7 separate regions of the Homo sapiens genome follow, and regions 2, 3, 4, 5, 6 and 7 are each linked to region 1. Evidence: fine-mapped QTL for protein levels in blood plasma. A gene starts in region 1. Each other region holds a variant in brackets. All regions are shown on one strand. Distances are from middle to middle.

Region 1 (4,070 bases):
AGAAGTTGAAACACCAATAATTTACTTGTTTTAGAAATAAGATGAATGTCAGTCATCTTTATTCAACTTTGCATGGTCATTATGCTTTTCTTACTATATGAAATAATAGCTTTTCTTTTCTTTTACAGATTAAAAAAAAGTCCTTTATACCCTTATACTGAATATTGCAACACTTTGGTATTTTCATTTTAACTCTATTGTAAATGGAGAAATTATTAACCTGAAGTAAAGTGATTGAAGTAACCCTGAATAAAAGTTATTCAAAAGCTATTTCAGTGACACAATAGCAATGGATATATACAGCAAATTGACTCTGATACAATGCCAATGATCACATCTTTTCACTCTGAATTAGTGATCATGGATATTTTTAAAAATATGTGTTTGGTGCAAACTTTGCAAATACACATAAAAATACTGGATTTTCTAATCCCTGAAAGAAACTCTCTTCTTTCACCTCTCAGTCGTGTAAGAGTTAACTCTGTTTCCTACAAGGATGCAATCTGTAAGTTAGGTCTGGAAGGCAGCAAAGGCAACCTGGACTTGAAGTTAACACTTCTGTTGTCAAGGGTTACTGATTGGGGGAAGGGAAGGGGCTGTAAAGGGAAAGAGTTACGGAAATGAAGAGGGATTGTAGCACACACTACATAAATTCAAATGCTTTACATGTATTTGGAATAAGATCTCGAGTCTGTTGTATTTTTGCATTGTGTTTTCATTTATTTAGTTTACACATAGGTAGTGAATTTATAGGTTGGTTGATGTTAACCTTATCCAGAGTGGCCCTTTCCAACAATGTTCATTCAGTTGTACATTACATATATGTAATAATTTTGTAATTAAATTGGAATTTATCACAATTATTTACATCAAAGACAATAAAATTATGTTACTTCCTAAATTATAATATCAGTAAATATCGTATCTAGGATTTTGTGGAAAGTCTATGTCATTTTAGTTTAAATAAGGATTTCTCTTTTCCTCCACAAAATTAAAGGTCAAAGAAAACAGCATGTTTAAGACTTCAAATTAATATATATTAAGATTCAGCATTTAATATTCTAATTCTTAAAATAACTGGCTTTACCGATGATGAACTAAAGTGATTTTGCACACTATTACAATATTTCAAATTGCTAGTCACCACAGGTCGGCCTCACTTTAAATCTCCTTGTTATGCCAATTTGCATTACTAATGAACTTGCTAAGAGAGAAACTGTAAAAAGATAATGTAGCAATTAATAGTAAATGCTTGACATACTGTGACATTATAATACCTTTATGTTGATTTATATCTTTATGTCAATATTTACAAGGAAAATATTTTTGAATTTCTAATTTTGCGAAGTAAAAATGATGCTGACGCCATTGTCATTGATGGAATTTTTTCTGTAGCATTTGACTAATATAACCCGTGTTTTATAATTGGTAGACTCATATTTTAGCTTCTACTATCTACTACCCATGTAAGGTATTTTATTTGTAGTAGCTATGAATTGTAAATACAATTGGGTGTTGTGTGTACCTACGTGAAGTGCAGAAGTATTTGATTATATAAAATTTCCTGGATTTATATGAGAATAATGCATAATAGAGAGCAAAAGAGGGTTTTCCTGCCAAAAGTGTCTGTGTGAATTTTCCTTCGAAAATGTTCTTTTAAAATCCTTTGTATGATCAAAGCCACTCCACACAGACAATTAAAAGCAGCTATGGAATGATAGATCACATGACAGGAGTTAAATGTAAGGGTTTTTTTTTTTTTTTTTCCTCCCCCCTCGGTTAAACATCGCAGCAGGCATTACAATACCAGAGGTAACGAATCAATTAAATCCATTTTCCCCTCGGCGTCTCCAAAGCTGCGTGCCTAGTGTTGCTGTGTAGTTTAGACCGGAGCAGTAGGACCCAGGGGCCTCCGCAGCCACCAATAGAAGCGCACACTTGGACCTATTTGTATGCAATGCCTTCTGCTCTGCGCATTAATAGTAATACAGATAACGGGTTTGAAAGAATTCTCTACTGAAGAAGGATTGAATTTTTCCAGGGTGCTGATACAGAGAAGAAACCCGACTTCACTCTCTCCCTATTTCCCCACTCTTAGGTTTAAAAGTCTGTCACCTTTCGCTTGGTTTAAACTCGGAAAGGTCTCAGTGCACAGCAAAGTTGCAGGGCTGCGTCTGCACTACGGAGCCTCTAGATTGCTGAAAACAGTCTTATGGAAGGGTAAGTCTCGGAAATGGTTGCAAGGGAAGTGACAGCTGGCTTTTGATTTGTAAAAGGGGACACGCTGGGTTTTACACTAGTGGTTGTTGGAGTGCAGAATGGTTGCCGAGAGGACTCTGCAGTTTATCCAGAAATTGTGGCTGATGCGCCAGGGTGTTTTGGGGTAGAATCAAAAACCTTCAGGCTAAATCGGAAATTGCAGCCTTGCGATCGGGAGGGATTCAACAAGTTTTCCTGCAGGGATGCGATGTTTGTTTCTTCCTTGCCAGTTGTGCAGAGTGTCCGTTCCAGGTAGGCTGCGGCTGCTTAACAAAGAAGTTTTGGAATTTGTTTGTTGTGTGTGTGGCTGGGCTAACCCTTGTTGGAGTAGGTTTCGTGCCGCTTTTGGCTTCTTGGGGGCACACAGCGGAATTTGCTCTAGGGATGCGGCGAGCATCAGCGGTGTAGTGGGCTGGGGCCGGGCAACTTTGCAGCCTAATCTCAGTGCCGCTGACCGCACCGTTGTTCGTGATGTGAGCTGACTGAGGCATAGACACGGGCAGGCTGCAGGGAGCTTCCAAACTTTGAAAGCATTCTCCAGGAATGGATGCGCGTGGGGGCTTTGAAAATAAGCGTTACTAGGTGGATTTTGGTAAACTCTTGGCGGTATGTAGGCAGTGGGGACTTTTGACACTTGCATTTCCAACCTGCAGGATTTTGCTTGAAAACATGGTGCTGATGTGAAGACGAGAGCTTAAAGCTAAGCCAGCGGGGACTTTGAGGGAGGAAATGAGGGAGGGAAGGAGGAAGAATGAGAGAAGACAGATGAATGAAAAAGGTGCGTCCCATCTTTCACACACAAAAACCACACGAGTGGGACGAACCAGGAAGCGCTCCAGTTGGTGGCGTTTAGCTGGAAAACGTATTGCAGGGAGGTCCAGGAGCCTCTGCATTATTGATGAAACGCCGTGCCCTTCTGGGGCCCCTTCTTGCTCCTTCTCCCTGCCCCATCTTGCCAGCCCCGCTTCCATGAGCCTTCGGTTCCAGCGTTGGCGCGGGTGCGGCTGCGCGCGCGGCTGGGTCCCACAGCTCTGAGAACACAATGGGGAGAAGCAGGCGAGCCCTGCGGGCGGCCGATGCGGAAAACTCGGCGTGGCAACCCCACTGCTGCAGCCTGGGCTGCCGCTCCACCCGGGGCAGCGGCGCTGCAGAGACGGCTTCTGCCCAGTTGCCACGCGCCCTGAGGTCTCGGAGGACCGCGTGGAGGGCGCTCACACCTGGCCGCTAAAATCCTGGGATACCCTTCTAGGAGTCACTGTGTCCCACGCAGATGGGTGGGGTGGGGGAGACGGAATGCTAAGACATCCCACTCCTGCCTCGAGTCGGAGCTCCCACTACTCAAATATCCTTAGTGTGCACCCCAAGCATCTAGAGGACCTGCGCCCCCAAGAAAAAAGGACACGAAGGGGGAAAGAAGGGAAATGTTGATGAGGCTGCAAGAGGGGAAGGAAAACAAGCAATTTAGGGCAATTATGGTCAATGGTCAGGCTTTTCTGGGCTCTTTTAAGTGGATTGATTTAGAGGAGCTTTGAAATGCTGTCCCTGGCCTGTCTGCGGCACTAAAGGGGGCAGATTTCCAGACGCAGGAACTCACTGGAGGCTCCTTCTATAGATGAAGGGAGGAAAGGGCAGGGCAGGAGGCTCATTTCACAGGGTAGTTTAACCCTGACCTCAGCACCTCCCACCCTTTCACGCCCCGCCAAGGAGTGCCCCGACCTTGTAAACTCCTCTGTGTCATCTGCCCTGTGTAAGTGATTTTCATCAAGCTGTGTGTTACAGAGGCCTGTTAAGAGATGGTTGTCTGTTTCCAA
Region 2 (4,070 bases), 760 kb after region 1:
AAACTCCTGACCTCAGGTGATCTGCCTGCTTCGGCCTCCCAAAGTGCTGGGATTACAGGGATGAACCAGTGTGCCCGGTCCAAAAAGTGGATTTCTGAAAATATGATGTCAGTGTATATTCTCTTAAATTCAACAACTATATAAAGAACTAGATAGTTTGCAGTTTTAAAACAACAAAAAAAGCAATTTGAAGCATGTTTAACTCTTTCATGAATCAATTGAACAGTTTTTTTTTAAGCTACATATGATAAGACTTTAGAATATTGACTGCCTCAATGTATATAGAAGACTGATACACCAAGTAGTTACCTTCTGTATGGTAACGCTTTTGCTTAAAGGAGACCAGTAAAGTGAAAGAAGGAAATAATTAAAAGATGAGATGGAGTTCCAACTCTAGGTGCAATAAGAAACTTCATGAAAATGGCTACTTTTACTGTGAAGCTAGGACTATCACTTTACTAAACACTCACCATTATCTTATTTAATGCTCATAAAAATCCTATGACATATATGCTGTTATTTCTAAGATATTACTGTGCCCTGATTTTACTGTTGTAGAAACTATATCATAGAGAAGTTAGGGAATGTGGTTCAGCAGGGATTTGAACCAAGCTGGCTCTAAAACTCTCAACTACTGTGCATTTTCCTAGTCGAAAGAGAGAAATGAAGAATTTAAATAAAAAAGATTATGGTTCAATCACTTTTTATTTTAAAACTTGTCTCAGAAAAAATCCACTTAAATGAAACTGTGGTTTGAACACTTGAGAATTTGGAAGGAAGGCATTATTCTTCCTGTCATTAAGAAAATGGTCTCTAATTTTTAGATCACCAGGCAAGACAGTCAGTTCTTTACATCATCTAACCAGTTCACATTGAGCCTTGATTATATCTGCATTTTCTGGCATGCTTAAAAGAGGAGACTGAATGTGATTCAAAACATTGTCTGCTGGTGATGCAGATGCACGTGGCTTTCGAGTTGTATTTTGGAAAATGAATGGCATTGTTCTTCTTGCACACTGGAGGAAAGATTTTGCTCTGCTCTGAATCCCAAGGCAAGTAATTGGTACTCCTCACTGAAGAGCCTGTGGAGAGACAATCATTTCCCCTGTGGTTGCTCTTAGGCTCTGGGTTGAGTATGGGCTGGTGATCATTTAGTAGATGAGCCTTCTGCTTGACTGCTGTTCACAGATAACTCACTTCATGGTTACTGATCATGGAAGGGTTGAGCCTTAATACCTGGTTGATCAGCTGGTTGGAAACTGCTTATGCATAGCCAATAAAGTTGCCATCCTGTGGAGATCAAAAGGCTACCTCCATTCTTTACAATTCTTGATTAGCATGATTTCCTTTCCCCTTCTCCCTCCACTTTCAGCCCCTTCCTTCAATCTTGCTGTTGAAGAAGAGGAAGAAAAAAAGATGATCTGTAGTGTACAGGGAGATAGCTTTGATCTCCACTGCTTTGCTTTTTCCTCTCTCTTTTTTAACCATCCAAAAGGCTATTTCTAACACCGAAAGGTGTCATGTTGCTTGCTTCATGGGAGAGCTCAGCCTCATTTCCCTTCAGCCAAAACAGGCTGCTACAAATCCTCTTACTTCTGTGATTTTACTTGGCTTCCAAATGTCTTATGACAGTGTTATTCCACACATAAAATAATATTTTGAACAGCATGACTGTGCATATCTTTCTGACTTTATTCAAAGAGAGAAGTACCTCTGTGGCGTTCACAGCTGTCCATGGCTTAGAGCCGGAAAATAATATTCTGTTTATTTTGTTTAATTAATTCATATTATTTTGAGGGGAAAGTGGATAGAAGGTAAGCAATTGTAGAAAATGTTCTAGGGTCACAAGATGAGACTAAATAGTCTATCTGGGCTTAATGCTTGTCACCTAGTTTGACACTTAAATGAAGCGTTAAAAGCACCATCAAAGGATACAAGCAAATGTCAACAGAGCAGTGTGGTTCTGTGTTAAGTGGGAATATAGTCTTTTTGTGTCAAGTGATTGCTTTGTATGCAGCATATAGGAAATAGTCGGTTTTGGTTCCTAATAATACAGTATTTTGGGGATCTATTTTTCAAATCATGTTAGTCTTTCAGTTAAGTAGAGCAAGGTTTACTAGAAAACATTTTTAAGCTACTTCTGGCAATAACAGCTCACAGTTAAAACACTTTCTCAAGATGCTCTTGGTTAGATTTC[A/C]GAAAGTATCAAGTTCAAAGTATGTCTAAATTCAACTCATGTGTACAGGACCTGAGAGCTGGGGACAGCTTGTCCACAGTCAGCCATGAAAGGAGCGTGGAGTCCTCAAAGCTCTCCTCTAAGATTATTTGCAGTGTTCTGCTTGAAACACAGTTCGTATGCCCAGTTTGTATAGAAAGTAAAAGAGCAAAAAAAATTGTTATGTATGACTAGTAAGTTCTTGAAAAGCCATTTCAGGTATATGTTATCTCTTGATTTAACTTACAATTTCAATGAGCATAACAAGATAGTATTCATATGACATAAAAGTCTTTGGATCATGTTAGGTATGGTCATAATTTATGCAACATTATGAAAACATATATATAATATATTATGAAAAACATATATATTTATATATAAATATATATAAAACATTATGAAAAAAATATATATAAAACACCAACTTGCTAAGTTCATTCCTGGGTTTTGGTAGAAGGCTAGATTTTAGCTTCTCTGCACTAACGTGATTGAAGCCCTTTTATGTTATTAGCAATTTCAGGTAGAGTAGGAAAAGAACATGAAGCCAAAGAATGAATGAATCAGGTCACAAATGTCTGTTTCAATATCATTTGGCAACACAGTGCTAATGAGATACACTAAGTCTCATAATTTGATCTCCAACTTAACTTGCCTGCTGTTACATTTTCTTGTTTAGCACGTGATTTTCTTTTTTCACTAATGGTGGACTTTTAATTTGGCTAAAGAAATATATCTATCTGCAATTCCTTTCCTATACAAGAACATGTCCGCTTTTTAGTTGCATAGCTCTAAAGCTGATTTTGTATACTTAGGCTTTATTGAAAAGGAAGCCTGTCACTCTGAAACTTCACTAAAATTGTCCTTGCTCATACAACAAAGTGAGTTAAAGTACCTTTGTATGTGTTAACTACACATACCTCTGGGTAGCTTTCAACTTCTTTAGTTGCTTGGTTTGGGAAGTAATTTCAGTATATCCAGACCGTTCCATTAGCAAGTTGTCTGAGTAAAGTAAACCATCTTGTACAGGCTGTGGAAAATAAAACTCATCTGTTCATTTCCCTTGTATCTGAAGAGAAGTGAAAATTTCCTAGCAATCTGGTAGAACGACCACTTTCTAAAATGAATGAATTTAGTAATATATTTCCAAAATCTAAATCTGTAGAAGAAAAACTGGGGAGACGTAAAGCTTTCATTCAGATATCTATGCAAATAGGAGGGGCATTCACTGACAAGATCATTGCTATTAATCTCCATGAATTCAGATTGAACACAAGCATCCTAAGAACAGCTTTGATTTAAATTCAGTAGGGTGATGAAGAAAAAGAAACTCATTGTGGTATTTGATCTTTTCTCCTGTCATAGGTCATTGAATCTTAAGAGCTCATTGCTTTTTAGGAGTCTATATGTAGATATAGATAAATAAATATATGTGTTTACATGATGAAAAAACCCAAGTGACTTATTAAATGATGATCGATGTAGTAGTATAGGCCCAGTTGTATACACGGAACCTGAAACACTAGGAATCAATAATATCTCTAATAATAATGGTAATACTGATAATGCCTAAAAGTTACAGAGTGTTGTTATCTGCTTGACAAAGTGCTAACATGCCTTATCTTATTTAATACTTAAAACAATCATATTAGAAATGAATGTGTTGTTATTAGCCCTGTCTGTCAGTATGAAAAATGAGGTTCAACAAGTTAAGCTCTTTAACTATGGCCAGTCAAAGTAGTAGAGTGAGGACATAAAAGTAGCCTGTCTCATCTCAGAATTCTTGCTTTTCACAATTCTACAAACACACTATACTATTCCCTTAAAGATAATGAATGTAGATGAAACAGTGTAA
Region 3 (4,070 bases), 470 kb after region 1:
TACAAATAAGGGGCATTGCTTAACATAAAGGAATTACTTAAAGGAAAGAATGAGCATATGTCTTTTCATAGGAGGTGGTCTGTAAAACACACAGTTTATAAATTGAAAATCTATATACTCAGTCACATTTCACAGTACTGTGTGCGGAATTGGTGGGTTCTTGGTCTCACTGACTTCAAGAAAGAAGTCGCGGACTCTCGCGGTCAGCTCTTAAGGTGGCGCTCTGGAGTTTGTTCTTTCTGATGTTCGGATGTTTGCGGAGTTTTTTTCTTCTGGTGGGTTCGTGGTCTCGCTGGCTCAGGAGTGAAGCTGCAGACCTTTGCGATGAGTGTTAAAGCTCATAAAAGCAGCGTGGACCCAAAGAGTGAGCAGTAGCAACATTTATTGCAAAGAGCGAAAGAACAAAGCTTCCACAGCGTGGAAGGTGACCCGAGAGGGTTGCCACTGCTGGCTCGGGCAGCCTGCTTTTATTCACTTATCTGGCCCCACCCACATCTTGCTGATTGGTAGAGCCCAGTGGTGTGTTTTGACAGGGCGCTGATTGGTGCGTTTACAATCCCTGAGCTAGACACAAAGGTTCTCCACCTCCCCAACAGATTAGCTAGATACAGAGTGTGACATAAAGGTTCTCCAAGGCCCCACCTGAGTAGCTACAGAGTGTCGATTGGTGCATTCACAAACCCTGAGCTAGACACAGGGTGCTGATTGGTGTGTTTACAAACCTTGAGCTAGATACAGAGTGCCGATTGGTGTATTTACAATCCCTGAGCTAGACATAAAGGTTCTCCACCTCCCCACCAGACTCAGGAGCCCAGCTGGCTTCACCCAGTGGATCCCACCGGCTGCAGGTGGAGCTGCCTGCCAGTCCCACTGCAGTGCGCCTGCACGCCCCAGCCCTTGGGTGGTCGATGGGACTGGGCGCCATGGAGCGGGGGTCAGCGCTCAGTGGGGAGGCTGGGGCCGCACAGGAGCCCACGGAGGGGGTGGGAGGCTCAGGCATGGCGGGCTGCAGGTCCCGAGCCCTGCCCCGCGGGAAGGCAGCTAACGCCCAGTGAGAAATCGAGCGCAGCGCCGGTGGGCCGGCACTGCTGGGGGACCCAGTACACGCTCCGCAGCTGCTGGCCTGGGTGCTAAGCCCCTCATTGCCTGGGGCCGGCAGGGCCGGCGGGCTGCTCCAAGTGCAGGACCCGCCAAGCCCACGCCCACCCGGAACTCCAGCTGGCCCGCAAGCGCCGAGCGCAGCCGCAGTTCCCGCTCACGCCTCTCCCCCCACACCTCCCTGCTAGCTGAGGGAGCCGGCTCGGCCTTGGCCAGCCCAGGAAGGGGCTCCCACACTGCAGCGGTGGGCTGAGGGGCTCCTCAAGTGCCGCCAAAGTGGGAGCCCAGGCAGAGGAGATGCCCAGAGCGAGCGAGGGCTGAGGGCTGCCAGCACGCTGTCACCTCTCAGTACTACATATTCTTGGTAAGGCATTTATCTCATTTCAAAATGAAATATTTATTTAATATTTCAGGTATTAAATAAGTATTTCACAGGTATTACTTTGATTCTATTTCCTTTTTTATATCGTTAATATTCTGAAAGTTTGAATA[T/G]CTTTAAGAGAATTTAGTAGACTTTCTGGAGCCAATTTTTTTTTTTTTTAGTGTTTCTTGAGTTGATATTTAAAACAACTTTTCATTTTCATTCCTTGGTTAATTAACTACACTTCACTATTTTTATTTTCAATTCTAAACTCTCCCTTCAACTTTTCGATGGATTTCATTGAATTGGAAAGATTTCATCAACACACGCTTTAAAAAGTCTTGTTTTCTCATAAATTATCTCAATTAAAAATTATTATTTTATCTCAGGCAGAATATTTCCTCCAAAATGAATATATTATTGGCAAACACTTTATATAATATCTTTATTTTCAAATCTCATATCAAGCAAGCAACGTTAATAGTATTAATTGTTAACATTTATTAGTACATCTGCAAGAGCATATATTACAGCATGCATAGCTTATTTATATAATAAACGAAAATGACACTAGCCACCTTCAACATTTGTCAGGAATTCAGTCAAGTTGCTGACTTGACTTTGAATATCTTCATAGTTCCCAATAAGCCACATGTTAATCCCTTTCCTGGTGAAGAATTTGGAGACCAGAGATTTAATTTACTGAACATTACACTCTAGTTAATGTTGCAGCCAGGATTCAAACTATGTCTGTATAACCCCAAAGCTCATGCTCTTTTCTCTAAATTTTATTTTTAGAAATTATTTGAAATACTGGTCTATGCTAAATGCGATGTAAACTTCAATATACCTCATGTTAGGCATTTTTCATGATAAAAAGAATACAACTATGTTACCTCAAATGACCTTCCATGTTGTCATCATGCACAGAAATAGAAGGTTCAATTGTGCCAAAAAAGTATTTAGCTTTTTTGGAAGTGTGTATTTATTATATTTGTTTGATTTAAACATAGAAGTATTCTCAATACAATGATCTCAAAGGAACTGTTCATATCCTATGCAACCATTAAATTTTCATTATATTAAATGTGTTTGAAATCTTTGTAGTATGCAGACATTTTGGCAGTGACAGGATTTAACCTGTAATTTTCTCCTTCAAAAAAGTTGAAAATGGAAAATAATGAACTCCTTCCTAGATTACTCAATTAGTAAATTCCTTCAGTAATATAAATAAAATCCAAATTATTTTTCTAGTTATTAAAAATAATTGAGTATCTGTTTACATGAAGAACTTGTACTTGTAATATCTTAATTTTAAATTATTTAAAACTTGGTTTTTCTACTTTGCACCCATTAAAATAAACCCAAAACAACTTTATGGACTGGTGAATTTACAACTGTTTTAAAAGAAGTTTCAGGATAATCTGGCATTCTGTTTCAGAACATCCCCAAAATAAGAAAAAGAAATTCTATCCCTATGTTAAAGTAATATTTCATTACTAGTTGCTAAAAAGAATGGTTCAGTCTTTTCAAAGGGACCATAAAATAGAGAAACAGACAGCAAGGACTACTGAAAAAATCTGACTTCTTAAACCCTGCCTCCTGAGGGGAGGCATATTATCATCTATAATGTATTTGATCCCTCACAAGCTCACCAGGGTTACAGACCATTTTTAAAAAGAAAAAAAAATGCAGTAAAGAGTGTACAATGAGCTACGTGGAGGAGGAGAGAAACGTACCTTTAAACCCAAAGACTTTTTGTTCGTATGTTGCCAATCAATCATGCCCGCTGGCCTGGTTATAGATTGCTCTTCATAATCTGTTTTCACAAGATCCTAAGAGAATTCTAACCATAAAAGAACCTGCCTCTCTCTACCCAGAGGTATATAAAAGAAACTGATATTTTTTTTTAAATCCATATCACAAAAATATATAGTCAATTCATTATCACTTTGAGAATAGTATTTCTCTATTTCACTAATTCCTGATCAAATTATTTCACATATAGTGAAACATTAAAGTCCCAGACATTGAACTTTCTCTTTAGAAAAGAGAAACTCCTTTGCTTGGGCTTTCAAAAGAGTGTATCACTTTAATGATCTTCATTGCTAGTTGCATTCCATGACAACATGATGCTATATTACATAGATTTGAATTTCAGAGGTGATATGGTAAAGTTGTACCTCCAGAATAGTATTTATTAAAAGAAAATCCTAGCAGTTGGCTTATTAGAATACTGTTAGACATCTTCCCATCTAACAATATAGTAGTGACATGATCTCACCATATTTCAATAAAAGAAATATGTCAGAATATTTAGAACAATTTCTTTTTACAGTTTGGAGAAATGGTATTTTGTTTACACGAAGCATCCATTTTTCATTTCTTTCTTCCCATGGGAGCTAACATAAATCAAAACAACTCAAATGTTTTTAATTTCAGAGTGAGATCAGCAGCTGTTCCCCAGAACTCCAGTTGCTGCAAAAGAGGGAGTTTTTGTGTGAGTCACAAGTCAGATAGACAATGTAGCAAGATCTGGTTACATACCATGATACTTACTGAGCATATGCCCACTAGAGATCATAATAACAAAGAATTGTGTTTACTTAAA
Region 4 (4,070 bases), 340 kb after region 1:
CTTTTTTTCTGTACCATGTTTTTGTCTTCTGAATCTGTCTAATTTCCACCTTTTATTCTCTTTTGAAAAGTCTGCATTACCATGGTATCGCAGTCAGGGATAACCGGAGAAAACAGAAGATACTAGTGTTATTTTAGGGGAAAGGGATGGTATACATGGAATACAGTACTTTACAAACTTGCTGGAGGGACTGCAGCCAAGAAACTTGGGGGACCACTTGCACGGTGGGAATGAAGATCACCACTGTAGTTGGTATATACATCCCAAAGTCTCATTTGGTTATAATGGGATTATAATGGGATTATAACCAAATAAGTTATTGATGGGATTTTCAGTTTCCATTTTGGGAAACAGCATGAAGACATTTGTATATGATACTAGTTGTAGTACATTAGGAAACTGGTGCTCTGTCTCTAACGCAACTGGCCCTCATGCCAAGTTGCTGGTGACAAGACACTGACATATGCAGTACAGGGGTCAGCCAACACTGATCTCTACTCTGTTTTTGTAATACCCACAACAGCAGAATAATAACCACTACCTCCTTTTGCCCTTCAAAGTTCATGCAATTACACCTACCTGGCAGAACCTATTCATATCCAGAACTTTCATGTAAACATCCATTTACATCCTACTACAAATACTTATACTTCCAAATACAACAATAACAATAAAAATTTGGTCCAGTCTAACATAATGCACTAAATCATACACAATGTCTTCATTCTCTTCCCAAAAATGGAAATTCAAAATCCCATCAATAACTTATTTGATTATAATCTCATTTTAACTGAATAAGACATTGGGATGTATTCAAGCTTTTCTCATTCAGTTGCAATCCCAATTTGTCATTCTGTAAAATCTTCAAAAAATGTAGAGAACAGGAACAAGAGGAAAAATGGAAATTGGTTACTATACACAAATACATTCAAGGCCAAGAAAGGAAAAAACTATGGGACTCTACAGCCTTTCATTTCTGCAACCATTCACTAAGTTGTGATTCTTTTGTACAACTCTAGCATTCCTTCTGTGCTCCTTTTGTTCCCAATTAGCACTTCAGCTATTTGGGGCTTTCTATATGGTAGGGTGGCCCAACCGTTCATTTCTTAGGGGTCTAATCAATTGAGAGAAACATCATTTTCTCAAAAATGAAATCAATTTAAGTTTAAAAAGTGGCTATAGTCCTTCAGGACTTCCAAAGAATTTTTGATTTGTTTACTCATTTGTTGGCATAGGTTGTCTGCATCCTTATAAATGTTTGAAATTAAATTATATTGAGTTGGACAAATTAAACATGAATTAAGCAGAGTAAAGTATTATTTTTATTGAACTTAATTTCTGAAAATTTACGAATTATAAATATTGCTTACACTTACATGTTTAAGATATTTCAAAAGACCAGTTTTTGTAACTTGCATGGCCTATAGTACCTTAACAAGTTGATTTAGTTAAAGTCTTTAATTTTTATTTATTTTGTAAAATTATAAAACATTTTCAATCCTTAAAAATTATAATCATCAATTTTAAAATTGTATCATAAATGTTAGACTATGGCTAAATTTGAAAACCAAATACAATAAAAAAGTTAAAAAAGGAGAGAGAGAAAAGTTAGTTGGAAAGAAGAAGGTATAACAATTCAGACAATTTATAATAGCAAATATGAGAGCATCTATTGTATAATAATAATAATCAGACATATCTTATATTTAAGAAGAAAAAATAAAATAAGAACCAATTAAATCAAAAGACTGCTCTATAGTTTGCTACTTGCTTGTAAACAGAATTTTCAAATAAAAAGGTAAAGAAACTAATGGGCATTATTCAATAAGAAGACTTAATTGGTGGGATATGGAGTAGCCAGTTCAAAGACGTGTCAGACATAAAAATTGATTGTCTTTGGATTACTACTACAACAAAATTATCTGGCTTCAAACCTGAATAGCTTAAGAATTTAGAGCCAACAGGGTGTTTCTTCACTTGCTGCCAGGAGCTTTCTTGTTTAGCTCAGTGCCAGTTAATCAGGTTGTTTGTTTGTTTATTTTGTTTTTTGTCCCTTCACTCCACTGAACTGATTCCTGTTAATAACTCTATAACCTGGATTAGGCTTTGCGTGTTTGTGGGCCCATCCTCATGAGTTGTATTTGCTGACC[C/T]GGAACCTGAGTGTGAGAGAGGGTCAGACTTTGAGCAAAACTGAAGACTTGTGGACCCTGGATCTTGAATATTTACTTCCACGTTTTCCTGGCTTTACGGTCCAGCTCAAAAAGCAACATCTCAGGAATACCCATGAACTTTGTGGATGTAACTGGATTCTGACATAATGCTTTAGGATGAACCAGCAACTCCAATCATAGCTTAAGTTTTGTTCAAAGGAGTGTATGTATGGCCCTTGGAGGGTAACTTGTTCGTATTTTCACATATTCCTCCATAGTGACTTGATATGCACGTATTTCTAGTTTCATCTTTCAAGTCAGGTTATCTAGATACAATTTACATACAGTAAAAGTTACTCTTTATAGCTGTACATTTCTATGAATTTTAGAAAATACATAAAGTGATGTAACCACCACCATAATTAAGACACGTAATATTTCCGTCATCCCCAAAGGTTCCTTTATGTCCCTTTGTAGTCCATTCTCCTAGCAAACTTTGATCAGGTTTCTGTTCTTATAACTTGGCCTTTTCTAAAACATCATATCAATTACATTTTTCAATCAGTAGCTTTTTCTTTCTGATTTTTTTTTTCACTTAACATAGAGTATTTGAAATCCATCCATGGTGTTGCATGTATGAATATTTATTTCTTAAAATTATTTTTTAATATTCCACTGTATGTTGGTACCACAATTTTCTCATCTACTCACCATTCGGTGGACAATTGGTTGTTACCAGGTGGAGGTGATTATGAATAAAGCTGATATAAACACTCTTCATGTGGGCATGTGTTTTCCTTTTCTCTTGGGTAAAACTTCTAAGAGCAGAATTGCTGAGTCTATGATAACAAATAAGGAAACTTCATAAGAAACTGGTACATTGTTTTAGTATGCTGGCTTTAGCATTTTGCATTCCCGCTAAAAATATACCAGAGAATATACTGCCAAATAATAATGAGGATGATAACAATGGGTGCAATAATTGAAATGATAACTATATTGTTGAGAATCTTTTCAGCACCTCCCATGTCACAGGCACTGTGCTAAGCACTCAACATATTTTTAATTTATTGTATTATCAAAAGAATGCATAAGGTAGATGCTAACACTAGAATCTCCATTTTATTTATTTTTATACATTTTATTAATATTTCTTTTTAATTTTTGTGGGTACATAGTAGGTGTGTATAAGTTACATGAGATATTTTGATACCTCTATTGGTATCTCTGATACCTCTATTGGACACCTTTTTATATACCTGTTTGCCACTTATATGTCTTTTTTGATAAATGGCTATTTAGATATTTTGCCCATTTTTTAATCAGATTATTAGATGCTTTCCTATAGAGTTGTTTGAGCTCCTTATAAATTCCTCATATATTCTGGTTATTAATCCCTTATCAGATGAGTAGTTTGCAAATATTTTCTCTCATTCTATGGGTTGTCTTTTCATTTTGTTGCTTGTTTCCTCTGCTGTGCAGAAGCTTTTTAACTTCATATGATCCCATTTGTCCATTTTTGCTTGGTTGCCCGTGATCATGGGGTATTACTCAAGAAATCTTTGCCCAGTCCAATGTCCTGGGGAGTTTCCCCATTGTTTTCTTTTAGTAGTTTCATAGTTTGAAGTGTTAAATTTAAATGTTTAATCCATTTTGATGTGATTTTTGTATGTGGTGAGAGATACCAGTCTAGTTTCATTCTTATGCATACGGAAATCCAGTTTTCCCAACACCACTTATTGAAGAGACTGTCCTGTCCCCGATGTATGTTCTTGGCACCTTTGTCAAAAATGAGTTCACTGTAGATGTATGGAGTTATTTCAGGGTTCTCTATTCTGTTCCACTGGTCTATGTCTGACTTTATGCCAGTGCCAAAGCATCTCCATTTTTAAAATGAGGAAATTGAAACTCAAAAAATGT
Region 5 (4,070 bases), 750 kb after region 1:
TAGGGATCCTTACACATATTCTTCATTATATTTAAAAGTATACCCCCATTACTAAGTGAAAGTTTGACATCTTTATTTAACGTACATTCAAATGATATGAGGATTTGAATTTTCTCTCTATCTTGCTCTCTTTCTCTCAAGTACTACACTTTAGTGTTTGTTTTCTATTACTAGGTAAGCTTCTCTTAAAAGTATTTTGTATTCCAAGAAAAAAGAGATATATTCTATGTTTTTCACTAAATATCCTTTAGCAAGACCAAATCGATGTATGCTTTTCAGCTTTGACTGCCCATTCATATTTTTACTGCTGAAAAGATTTTGGTTGGAGTCTTTGAATTCTTATCTCCAGGCTGTTTACTGAATTTATAGTCAGTTTTCTCAGGATTAGACTATCTTTCACTTTCAAAGATAGGTGCTGTTAACCAGAGTTTCCACAAAATGTCGCTCTAAGGTCGTTGGTTGCACCAGCAGCAACCAAAATCAATGTACAATTTGCTTTTAAATTTTTATCTTCCATTAGGTAATGAATGTGCTCACCTGAAAAGACATGGAAAAGCACAACACTATGTAGAAAAGAGCAAATCCTCCTTCTCTGCCCTATCCATTGCGCAGTTCTGTCCTCCAGAGGCAACCACCGAAAGCAGCTTCTTACATGTACTGCTAGACACCAAATAATTTTTTTTGAAGTTATGGTACACAACTCTGTAGATATTAATTCTGCCATTTATTCAGCATTCGGCATGTTAGGTATTTCACATAGTGTGTCTTTTTATTTATTTATTTATTTATTTAAGACGGAGTCTCGCTCTGTCGCCCAGGCTGGAGTGCAGTGGCAAGTTATCTCGGCTCACTGCAACCTCCGCCTCCTGGGCTCAAGCAATTCTTCTGTCTTAGCCTCCCGAGCAGCTGGGGCTACAGGCGAACGCCACCACGCCCGGCTAATTTTTGAATTTTTAGTAGAGACGGGGTTTCACCATATTGGTCAGGCTGGTCTCGAACTCCAGACCTTAAATGATCCGCCCGCTTGGGCCTCCCAAAGTGCTGAGATTACAGGTGTGAGCCACAGCGCCTGGCCACTGTGTCCTATTTAAAAGAAAGAAAGAAAAATGACTGACTCAATGAATGAATGCCTTTCAGACGTGTCAGGTTTGTTTTGCTTTGTGTATTTTTTGTTAATGCAATAAAATATCTCGAGAACAGAAACAGAGAAGAGAAAACAGACCTGGTCACAGAGCTATAACTGGCAGGTTGGGATTTCAGGGCGGGTATACTGAGTGTCAAACCTATGCCTGACTAGCTTCTCCTAACTGCAAACTCTGGGCTTGTCAAGATTGTTTTTTGCATTTGTTTCTCTCTCTCTTAAAATTACATCCCCATTGTTAGCTTTCTAATGTGTGGAGTATGAAGTTGAAAGAGAGAGTTTCAACTGAAACATGAGGAAATGATCCCAAGGCCCAACCCTGTGCCTTATGATTTGGATATCTTTTCTACAAGACCTTCAACAACTGCAACTTAAAAGAAAAGGATGGTTGTAAGAGACTGCCCATCTACTGATATGTTCTGGATAGTTCTCTGTTTACCTCCTGTCCTAAAGCCATGTTGCTCAAAATTGATTTTTTTTTTTTAAATGGGAATGGGGAGAAGTGAGAGTGGAGTTGAGAGTTTATTCCAATTCCTGGAAGCGGCAAGGAAGAGGTTA[A/G]GTTGGACCAGGAGGATTTTTGAAGTCTTTGGCTGGGAGGTTCCATTTGGAGAAAGGTGCAGGGGAGCTAGGGGTGGCGAGAGAAACAAGACAGTTTCTCATTCGCCTGGATTTCCGATTCCGAGCAATTGGATTCTCACCTGAGGGCGCAGTTGGGCACCCCTGGCTTGTGGATGGAAATATTGAGGAGCAGAACTTGCCTGACCAGCGCCTGGAGAATAGAGTGAAGCATGGAAAGGACCACGCGGCCCCTTTAAGTATTATCGGGCCGGGGAGGAGAGGGAGGGAACTGGGAGCCGCGGGGACTGTGGGGGAAACCCACAAGCAATTGAGCTGGAGAGGAGGCAGCGTGAGAGCAGAAACTTCAGACGCCGCTGATCCGGGAGGAGCTGGGGTGAGCCGCGGCGGCCGTCTCTCCCACCCGCAGCAGCATCCTCTCTGCCCTTCTCTGCCACCCCGGGGAGAGCCGGGAGCTGCCTCTTTACAGCTTCCACGAGCCAGGGGTGCAGGCAGCTGCCCCCAGGAAGTTTGGGCTTCTGCGTAGTTTAGGGGTGCCTGCGAGCGCCCCAGAGGGCGAGGGGCCGAGGGCGATGTTGGGCGCCGCGCGGGGCTGGGGGCGCCCAGAAGACGTGCGAGTGTCCGCGGTCCTGCTGCTGTCTCCAGTACCCTCCGCATCCCCCAAGTGATGGGAACAAGGGCCCGCCCAGGCAGCCGCTGTCGCCGCACCGCCCCCTCGCTCGCTCTCTGCGCGCGGAGTCACCCAGTCACACTCCCGGCACCCCGAGCCCTTCCTCCGGAGCTGCTGCTTCTACTTTGGCTGCTATCGCCGCCGCCGCGGGTGGCCCGCTGCTGACTGGGCTCGCCGGGAGACGGAGAAGCACTTTTTGGCCCTCCCTCAGCAGCTCTCACACCCCAACTTTGCCGCCGCCGCCGCGCCTGCCCTCGCAGCGGCGCTCGGCCGCACATTGTGGGGGCGCACGCCGGGAGGCTCCGCAAGACCGTGGAGGCAGGAAACGGCACTACTGCGCTTCTGCCTCGGCTCTTTGTTGTTCGCTTTGGATGGTTCTTGAAAGTGTCTGAGCCTCCTCGGAAATCCTGGGGCCGGAGAAGACAAACCTTGGAATTCTTCCTCTGCAAAAGTCTCTGAGATACTGACAAGCGTCCGGAAAGGTCGACGAGTAATTGCCCTGAAAACTCTTGGCTAATTGACCCACGTTGCTTATATTAAGCCTTTGTGTGTGGTGTGTGGCTTCATACATTTGGGGACCCTATTTCCACTCCCTCCTCTTGGCATGAGACTGTATACAGGATCCACCCGAGGACAATGATTGCGGAGCCCGCTCACTTTTACCTGTTTGGATTAATATGTCTCTGTTCAGGTAACCCCGCGTCTTCTTTCTTCACCCTTGATCCTCCCTGTTCGCCCCCTCTCCACTTTGCACGATCAAACCCAGAAGTGTATTTTGGTTACCCCTCCCTCCTAAGGCCGGAGGGGCTCGATTCCTGCTAGACTTTTAGGCGAAAATGTTCCTAGTTCGCATTTGGGGTTGTCTCTTTTTCCCCACTCCCCAAAACCTCCCCTCCACCCCTGAACCTCCTCAAGACTCTTTGCAGATCTCGGCCTTTTGCCAAGTTCAGGGCACGCCCAGATTACTCTGGGCAAACGCACGTCTAAGCACTAGGGTGGGAGGAGGCAGCGGCTGGCAGTGAGCTAGGGCCCCCAGGATGAGCCGAAGTGAGTATCAGCCGCCGGCTGCTTCCCTGGGGAGGGAAATGTGCGCCCTGGGAGCTTGTGGCCCGCAGGCTTGCCAGGATTCCTGAGCCTAGTCCTCTCTAGCCCCTCCTCTTCCGAGCACAAGGGGTTATTAGTAGTTGTTTTATGTAACCAAAGTCTGTAATTAAATTTGATTCTGAAGAAGCTTCACGAAATAACTCCTTCTTAAGGTAGGATATAAAATAGCCACTGCCTCGCTGGGTTTAGAAGGAAAACAGGCGGTTGCAAGCATCGGAAAGGGGAGTTGCCTGGGGATTCTCATTGGCGAAAGAAAACTGAATTTGGGATGTTTAGGATTAATTAAATAATACTGAAATTCCATATGAAGTGTTGGAAGGATGCTGAAACGGGGCCCTTCTGACATAAGAGTACACACTGTATCTACACTTGTAAATAGTTTTCATACACTCCCTAGGAAACTTTTTTACTGTGGGTGAACTGAGCCACGACTCAACTTCTGTTTCTTTCCTTTTGGTAGATTCTGGTTTCAATCACGGATCCGATTTCAGGCTTTAAAACACACACACACACACACACACACACACACACACACACACACACTGCACCTCGGAATTTTTATAGTCACATTCGCATACT
Region 6 (4,070 bases), 260 kb after region 1:
TCTCAGAGATAATTAGAAAACGGATGCCAGATCCTGCATTCTGTTTTACAATACTAACACAAATTTTAATCAAACGTAATTTCTGAGAATTCCTTTTTGGGGGAATGAAAAGCCATAAGGTTTTTGGTGGAAATTGCTTTTATTTAAGCAATAAAAAAGTGTTAATGAAATTGCTTGCATTCTATTGAGCAATGGTAGTTCAAAGATCTTTGTTACTGAGTGTATTAGTTTGCTAGGTCTGCCATAACAAAGCACCACAGATTGAGGGTTTTAAGCCAAAGAAATTTGTTTTCTTACAATTTTCGAGGCTAGAAGTTTGAGATCAACGTTTAGGCAGGATTGGTTTCTTCTCTGGCCTCACTGTTTGGTTTGTAGATAGCTATCTTCTTCCATGGGTTTTCACATGGTCTTCCTTTTGTGTTTGCCTCTGTCCTAATCTCCTCTTCTTTTTGATTTTTATTATTATACTTTAAGTTCTAGGGTACATGTGCACAACGTGCAGGTTTGTTACATAGGTGTACATGTGCCACGTTGGTTTGCTGTACCCATCAACTCGTCATTTACATTAGGTATTTGTCCTAATGCTATTCCTCCCCAAGCTCCCCACCCCCCAACAGGCCCCAGTGTGTGATGTTCCCCTCCCTGTGTCCATGTGTTCTCATCGTTCAACTCCCACTTATGAATGAGAACATGCATTGTTTGGTTTCCTGTCCTTGTGATATTTTGCTGATATTTTGCTGAGAATAGTAGAGTGAGCCCTAATCCAACATTACTAGTTTCCTCTTCTTATAAAGAAGCTAGTAATATTGGATTAGAGCTCACTCTACCAGACTTATATTAGCCTAATTATCTCTTTCAACACCTGATACCCAAACACAGTAATATTCTGAGGTTCCGAATATTAGGACTTCAACATATGAATTTTGAAGGGACCATTCAGCCCACAAAATCATGGATACCTTCCTGAATGTTGCTAAATGTTATATTGTGAAGAAAAATTAAAGCCTGGTGAGTCCATGACACCGCCAGCATATACCACAGAAACACACCCATGTTGTTTCCAAGTAAAATGTGGATATACACAGACTTGCAAAATTAGAAAATTAAGAGATCAATTATTCTTTATGATGAACAATACAATAAAATGGCAAAGTGCATAGAAGGACCACCAAAAACCTCTTCTACACTTCTCATTCCCAAAACAAAGGAAAGCATGCTTGGAAAGATTACTGAAAGGCTCTGAAGAACCTCCACAAAAAATTTGCATCCTCTTGATATGGCCTTTTGTTGTAGTAAGTTGCAGTACTGCTCTTCAGCTATTTCAATAGAGAGGAAAGTCAGTGAACAAAAACCCCTGCCCCCATTTATTTCTAATGGTCCCGATAGTTTGTGTATACCGGGGACTCACATAGAGTTGTTCTCAGAGTGTGTAGACACCTTGGTAGGCATTTATTTGTGGTCTACATTTTTATCAAAGAACCCTCTTCGTAGCTGTCCTATTAGGTCACAAGGGATGTAGTTCTTGTTTTGTACATCATCATGCTCCTCACTCTCCTGCTTTTAATAAACCGGCTAATGTGCTCTAAGCATTATAATAGGAATCATGATCTATCATCAGGTTTGATCCCCTTATGTAAAACAGTGCCAGGGCTCAAGAGGAGCTCTATTATGTATGTTGATTGATTGGGCAACTGA[C/T]ACTTCCAGAATCTAGGTGATGTGGCTGCATAAAGCACTGGCAGTGTGTTGTAACCTGACACAAATTGCCTTCCAGTAACCTCCTATGAACTCTGTAATCTTTCCATTGGGGTTTGGATATTTGGTTAATGGATAACAAATTCACACTCTTTCCTACTTGCCAGTTTAAACCTTTCACATACCTAATATGTAAGTTGCACATATGCTTTTATGACACTTGAAACTCAACATACTTAACACCAAATTCATCCACTTGTTTTAAAAATTGCTTTGTCTCAGCCGGGCACAGTGACTCACGCCTGTAATCCCAGCACTTTGGGAGGCCAAGGCGGGTGGATCACGAGGTCAGGAGATCGAGACCATCCTGGCCAACATGGTGAAACCCTGTCTCTACTAAAAGTACAAAAATTAGCTGGGCGTGGTGGTGCATGCCTGTAGTCCCAGCTATGCAGGAGGCTGAGGCAGGAGAATTACTTGAACCCGGGAGGTGGAGGTTGCAGAGAGCCGAGATCCTTCCAGCCTGGCAACAGAGTGAGACTCCATCTCAAAAAAAAAAAATTGCTTCATCTCATTGTTTTTCTATTTCTTTTCTTTGAAACTTACTGTTGGCATCTGATGAGTAACTTTTTCTGTTCCTACTTCAATAAACAGATAAATTCTAATTATTTGTCATTTCATTATCTCTTACTTCTATTCACCCCGTTGCTGGTTAGGCATCTTACGATTTGACATTCATATCCTTAAAAATCTTCTAATTGATATTGCTGCCTCCACTTACTATCTATTTCAGTTATTCCTCACTGCTACGAAAGGCTTTTTTTGTAAAGCATATTTCTCATCATAAAATCTCAAAACACTTGCCATATTAAAAATAATTAATATAATAATAATAAATAAATAAACCTGTGATCTCTCTTTCAATTTAATAAAATGCAGATTCTTTATTCATTCAGATAAGATGTTGTCTAGGTGTATTTCCAGTCCAGGCTTAACATTAACCCTCTTAATATAGTTAGTATTTTGGTTTACTTCAGTTAGTTGCTCTTCCACAAATGCCACTGATAGGATCATCCCTCTGTGCATCTACATACACTGTGGTCATGGCCTGTAATTCTCCCTTACCCATGTCTATCATACCCATCATTCAAAGCATACCTCACCTATTAATTCTTCCCTGAAGCTAAATCTTAAAATTACAACTGTAATAACTTCACTGCTCTGTAAACCTACCACTGTATACATTGCTTGCAACAGTCTACCTTATGTTATCATTATTTGTCTGCCTGTATTACCTACCCTACAAGACAGTAATCTACGTTTGCTCTTCATCTTTATTGTCCTTCTTACACCTCGTCTGTAGTGGAGAGACTGTCAAGCCAATGATCGTTACTGCAAAGTATTGTAAGCTTTCCCTGGTATTAGGCAGCCATGTCCTCTTTCTCTCCAAATCATTGGTTTTCAGATGCTAAAATAGACTCCTCTCTTCTTCTCTCTCAGCATGGTCCTTAAATCAGGAAAAAGTTCATCCTGCCTGCTGAGCTTTGGAGAACATATACCTTGCTTTCCTGAACTCTGACAGCATGACATTTAGTTTTAGACTTCTGCTTTGTTCGATCTAAGCTGTGTCTTTCTTATATCATTGTCGCAATTTGGCAATTTACAAGAGATGAAATCTCTTTCTCTTTCTCTCTCTATCCTTCCTCAACCTGCTTCCTCTTACTTTTCTTTGTCTCTTTTTTTTTCTTCGCTGGAAGACTGAAAATGGTCTGAACAGAAGTAGAAAGTCAATTTAAGAAAAAAAAAATATATAGAAAGAAGTTTAATAAATTAAAATGTCTTTGTTTAGAGCTGAATTCTTCAGTTAATGCTGTCTTCCAATGCGGCAAATTCACACCAGTTTCACCTCCATGATAAATTATACAGGAATTCATTTTAATATAAGTAAGAACATAATTGTTAAGGGATTGAATATTCAAAAAGTTTTTTTTTTTCAGGGAGGTATTCTTAGCATCTATAAAGTATTTTAAGAGCTGCAAAATGGGATATACCTTCTATTACAATCATATAACTATTTGCCTTATTGAATGAAGAAAATTATGCCAGAACTTCAGATGCTCTACTAAGTATCTCCGCATACATACACACACACACAGACACACATAGAAAGATACACACACATATGCCCAACTATGGCTTCTCCTTTTTGTGAAACATTATGTATTACTGGTAAAATTGTTGCAGTTATGGATATCTGCCTGTTAACTAGGCAGTAAGAAAAAAATCAAACAAATTGGGGAGATAGCATGAAATACAAAATTTGCATTTTCCATTCCAATACACTAAAGTAATTAAGAGATAAGTATTAGTTCAAATTA
Region 7 (4,070 bases), 1.0 Mb after region 1:
TTGTCAATTTAGTCTTATGAAGAAGGTGAAGAAGAAGGAGATGATGATGATGATGATAATAGTAAGCACTTATTATAGCACTTGCTGTGTGCCAGGTCCTATTACAAGCACTTTATGTATATTCACCCATTTAATCCTGCCAACAATCTTGTCAGTTACATACTAAAAATTCTGCTAATGCAGTCACTACATCTAAATTGGCTGGTTAGGGAAGAGAGGGCAACCAAGGGGGCACTTGCATTTTTTTGACTCATAACATTTTTTATAGGGTCCTATAGATTCTGCAACATATATAACAACTCTGCTATGCTATCAGTGCAAATTTTGACTCAGGATGACAGTATCTCTTAGTTTCCATTATGAAGTACTGTTTTTAATGTTCAATGATTTGGAGAGATTAGTTCACAGAATGGAAGTTGTGGTGGTCTTGAAACCGGGGTTTGGCATGTTCAAGAACTAGTCCATATTATGTTCAGTATTGAAATCTATAACATAACAAAGGTTTTTAAATTTGAAAAATTGAGTAGTTTTTTAAAAGATGACACAGAAATGGTCAAATTTGGCCAAATATTATAGCTCAGACAACCTAAAATTATTTATTCTGAAGACTAGAAGTCTTACCTAAAAAGATAGTAGAGGTTATCTAAAGAAAACAATTAACTGTCATCATTTGCCACTTAGGAAAAGAAGGATTTATGTTGAAAAGGATATTATAAATCAGTAAGTTATTCAACTGAATATGCTTTGTAGTTATCAGTCCAAATTGTGAGTTAGCCAGGTTCTAATATCATTAGCTGCACACATTTCAAAAGTTATTGTTGAAAAAAGTAAGCAATTATGAGATATTATATAACAAATGAAAAATTGAGTTAAGTAAAATATTATTAATGTAGTGACTGGGGAATTTTGTATAGATATAATAAAATACAGTAAAAACTAACACATTAGCAACACAGTATAAATATTAAGCTCTGCCTAGACTCAATTCTGAAATTTCAAAAATATTTTCTTCATGATAACCTTTGTCGATCATTTATCCCGAATTATTTCATTTTATTAAGAAGAAGAGCTTAAAAGACACTCATCTTTTCATGCTTCAAATTCTGAGCTGATATGAGCCTTTGTGACTTAAGCATTTTTGAATGACTTATATTATTCCTTGAGATAAGTTATGCTGAGTTGTTTATTCTTCTTCCTACTGTCCTTACAGTAGCATGCCACAAATATTCTCTATGTCTACAACTGTTTTTACTTGATTGAAAAAATAATTTAGATGATGGGGAAAGAATTTGTTTGTAAGATATTTATTTTCATCAAAGCTGTTATCCAATCAGTAACTATTTTTTTCATTTCATCTACTTATTGCATAGCTGAATTAAGATTTTATCCATTCTTCTTTGCAAAAGGTAGAAAAAAAATTTACAGCATCAGTATGCTTTAGCATAATGAACAAGTATATTTAGTAGTTTTTTCTTAAGATTTTTACCTTACCTAGGAAAACCAACCATTCTGGTTTGCCCAGGATGGTCCTGGTGTTAGAAATGAGAATTCTATTCCCAGGAAATCTCTCAGGTCTGGGAAAATGGGGACAGTTGGTCACTGTAATCCTAGATGGTTTAAACGAATTGTTTTGTGTATGAGTGATAGTGAATAACAAATCACATTTATATAAGGTAAGTAAAAAATAGCTAAAATATATAGAAGGGTTTTATCTGTATCATTTCTTTCAAAAGCAAGTTAAAGTTTTGAAAATCCATAATGAAGATAGGAGAACAATTTAGTTATGCAGTAAAAAACAAAACAAAACCAATAAACCAAAAATAACTATTTAACGCTTCCCATTCCCATGCTGACGAGGTAAAATTATTAGAATGGAGTATGTCATCAGGTCTTTTCCTAGTCCTTTTCTGCTTCCTGTGTGTCTTTGTAGGTTTCTTTGATTTCCATTGTTGGTGTGATATTTTGGTAAAAAGCAGCTGACTCACATCCCATCCAAATCCCCAGTGCCCTTCAGATCCTTCACAAATTTGGCATTCAGCCCACTCCTTGCCAATTGCTTC[C/A]TTTCCTCCCAATTCCCACATGTCTCCTTCCTACGCCATCTGCTTCTCCTCCCTTCCTTCGATTAGTGCTTTCGTCTGCTCTTCCAATTTCTTTCATTGTTCAATGTCTTTTGCTTCCTCTTCCCCTCCTCTCCCCTAGAGGAAATTAACATACTTAATACAGCTGATGTCATAAAGCCCCTTTTCCCTAAGAAGTTAAATTTCTGTTTCTGCAAAATAAATACATAGCTCTGTTGTGTGAAGGTCAAAGGAAACCTGAGTAGTAAACCTGAAATAGATTTTTTTGGGGTTCATCTTACATAAAGTGTCAATGCATATTATGTATTCTATTTATTTTCCAAAATAAATTTTCTATTTGGGATTTAAATATGGTAAGTCAACACAACTTTATTGTACCAGTCATTGGATTGAATAAATGACTTAAAAATAATTTTTCCTGTCTATCTTAATTTTTATATTTAATAATTGAAACACTGGGGATTAGTAGAACAAAGCATAGGCTTGGGCATTATAAGACCACATTATAATTTCAGGTTTCAACACCTATTAAATGCCTGATCTTATGGAAGACATTTGATCTCTATACATTTCATTGTTTCCATCTGTGAAATGAATTGTCTAATCATACCTAGATTAGTTCAGTGTGTCGTTGAGGGAATTCAGCGAGAAAATGCATGTTAAATGTCATTGTAAATGGTGACACACTTAATACCTATTAGTAATGGTGTTCTCTTTATTATTGTTGTTAGTATACCTATTTGAACTCTGAATATATTTAGTCATCTAAATCTTGATGGAAAAGGAAAATCCAAAACTACTCATGCCATAACAATTCCAATTTTCTTCAAGAAGCAAGAAGATGATATAAATGTATGTGAACGAAGATCCAGCTTTCTATCTCCTCTGCCTGTACTTCTATCTATATCTGATTCACCACTGTGAGAATTTTCAGTTGCCACAGAATCACTAGGGGTATTTTGGGTGAACATTATGAGTAAGTAAAGTGTTTAGACTAACACTGAAATTAAGAAACTGATTCAAGTTCTATGTGTACCTTTATTGGGCAATGCTATCATCAACTGGTTATTCCACAGGAGAATTCTGTCCTAATGCCCTAAAGGTACCCACCATGTGTAATGAATCAACTTCTTTCCCATGCATCGAGAACAGTTCTAGTTACGTATTATCCTTAGGGGAATTGAGAAATTATGTGATTCAGATGCAAAGTACTGGTTAAGAAAGGCTGGTTTCTCTTCTCAAGGAACATCCTGAAACTTTCCACACACTTGCAATTTTATTTAAATAATTACACATACACTTATCATGTTTGGACCCTGAAACTAGAAAAAAGAAAGCCAAGCATTTTACACCTACCTGTGAAGTCCAAGCACTCTTTTGAAAGGATTGCAGTAAACTAAAGCATTCTCAGTTCTGGCACACAAATTAGTTTAGATGACAATACAATTAAAAAGATAATTTCAGTGAGCATTGGGTTCTTGCTCTGTCTTTTCACTATTCATATGTTACATGTGCATTTGAAAGCTTGCATGCCAACAGCTTGGTATACCGATATATGAGAGTCTTGGCATGTGGTTTTCTATCTGTAATGTTCTGTTCTTCTACCCACTTTGTCTAACACACTCATTTTTCAGATCTCAAAGACAACTTCCTCAGAGGAGCCATCAGCAAAATCCCACCCAAATACCCACACTAGATTTCTTCTTCCTGTTATCTGTTTGTTTTCCTTTTACCAAGTACTTCTCTTATAATCTATTCTAAATTATGATTTATATATTACTTATCTAATACACATAAAACATATGAAAGTCCACCTGTATTCCTCATGTCTGTCTTATGTTCGAAGCTCATGTGTTCGAAAAAGTGTTAAATGAATGAAATATAAGTCAGAAATTTAGTCTTTTAGGGTACTCAGGAATGAAAAGTTGCTAATTTGAATATATATGATTTTGTTAATTTTATTTCCACATACAATTACGTATTTCTTATCTT

Alleles and levels. Positions count from the first base shown, and alleles are read on the strand shown. Strength reflects both the effect of a copy and how common the allele is. Not every link is listed here.
For the plasma level of the protein whose gene starts at base 1,974 in region 1, G is the high allele of the variant in region 3 and T is the other (weak association).
With allele C in place of T in region 4, the plasma level of the protein whose gene starts at base 1,974 in region 1 is higher (weak association).
For the plasma level of the protein whose gene starts at base 1,974 in region 1, A is the high allele of the variant in region 5 and G is the other (weak association).
With allele C in place of T in region 6, the plasma level of the protein whose gene starts at base 1,974 in region 1 is lower (weak association).
For the plasma level of the protein whose gene starts at base 1,974 in region 1, A is the high allele of the variant in region 7 and C is the other (weak association).

Evidence for each region. PIP is the posterior inclusion probability: the model's chance that the variant is causal. The UK Biobank Pharma Proteomics Project read protein levels with antibody pairs (Olink). The fine-mapping took linkage between variants from a reference panel, not from the people measured, so its PIPs are less certain.
Region 2: its variant is fine-mapped to the plasma level of the ROBO1 protein (UK Biobank, PIP above 0.99).
Region 3: its variant is fine-mapped to the plasma level of the ROBO1 protein (UK Biobank, PIP 0.95).
Region 4: its variant is fine-mapped to the plasma level of the ROBO1 protein (UK Biobank, PIP above 0.99).
Region 5: its variant is fine-mapped to the plasma level of the ROBO1 protein (UK Biobank, PIP above 0.99).
Region 6: its variant is fine-mapped to the plasma level of the ROBO1 protein (UK Biobank, PIP 0.95).
Region 7: its variant is fine-mapped to the plasma level of the ROBO1 protein (UK Biobank, PIP above 0.99).

What each region holds. Positions count from the first base shown.
Region 1 is chr3:79,765,902-79,769,971 of GRCh38, reverse strand. ROBO1 (roundabout guidance receptor 1) reads left to right here and starts at 1,974. Exons shown (of 31, transcript NM_002941.4): 1 at 1,974-2,220.
Region 2 is chr3:79,010,198-79,014,267 of GRCh38, reverse strand. The region is part of intron 3 of ROBO1 (roundabout guidance receptor 1); the gene reads left to right. Among named protein-coding and RNA genes, the nearest start is that of MIR3923, 500 kb to the left of the region's middle. The variant A/C (reference allele first, on the strand shown) is at 2,198.
Region 3 is chr3:79,297,416-79,301,485 of GRCh38, reverse strand. The region is part of intron 2 of ROBO1 (roundabout guidance receptor 1); the gene reads left to right. Among named protein-coding and RNA genes, the nearest start is that of MIR3923, 210 kb to the left of the region's middle. The variant T/G (reference allele first, on the strand shown) is at 1,591.
Region 4 is chr3:79,427,527-79,431,596 of GRCh38, reverse strand. The region is part of intron 2 of ROBO1 (roundabout guidance receptor 1); the gene reads left to right. It overlaps LOC101927374 (a long non-coding RNA gene), which reads right to left. Exons shown (of 3, transcript NR_110133.1): 2 at 2,862-2,989. Among named protein-coding and RNA genes, the nearest start is that of MIR3923, 78 kb to the left of the region's middle. The variant C/T (reference allele first, on the strand shown) is at 2,151.
Region 5 is chr3:79,017,415-79,021,484 of GRCh38, reverse strand. All of the region lies in intron 3 of ROBO1 (roundabout guidance receptor 1), which reads left to right. Among named protein-coding and RNA genes, the nearest start is that of MIR3923, 490 kb to the left of the region's middle. The variant A/G (reference allele first, on the strand shown) is at 1,700.
Region 6 is chr3:79,504,645-79,508,714 of GRCh38, reverse strand. All of the region lies in intron 2 of ROBO1 (roundabout guidance receptor 1), which reads left to right. MIR3923 (microRNA 3923) reads right to left here and starts at 828; the gene lies at 746-828. The variant C/T (reference allele first, on the strand shown) is at 1,696.
Region 7 is chr3:78,736,141-78,740,210 of GRCh38, reverse strand. The region is part of intron 5 of ROBO1 (roundabout guidance receptor 1); the gene reads left to right. Among named protein-coding and RNA genes, the nearest start is that of LINC02077, 690 kb to the right of the region's middle. The variant C/A (reference allele first, on the strand shown) is at 2,061.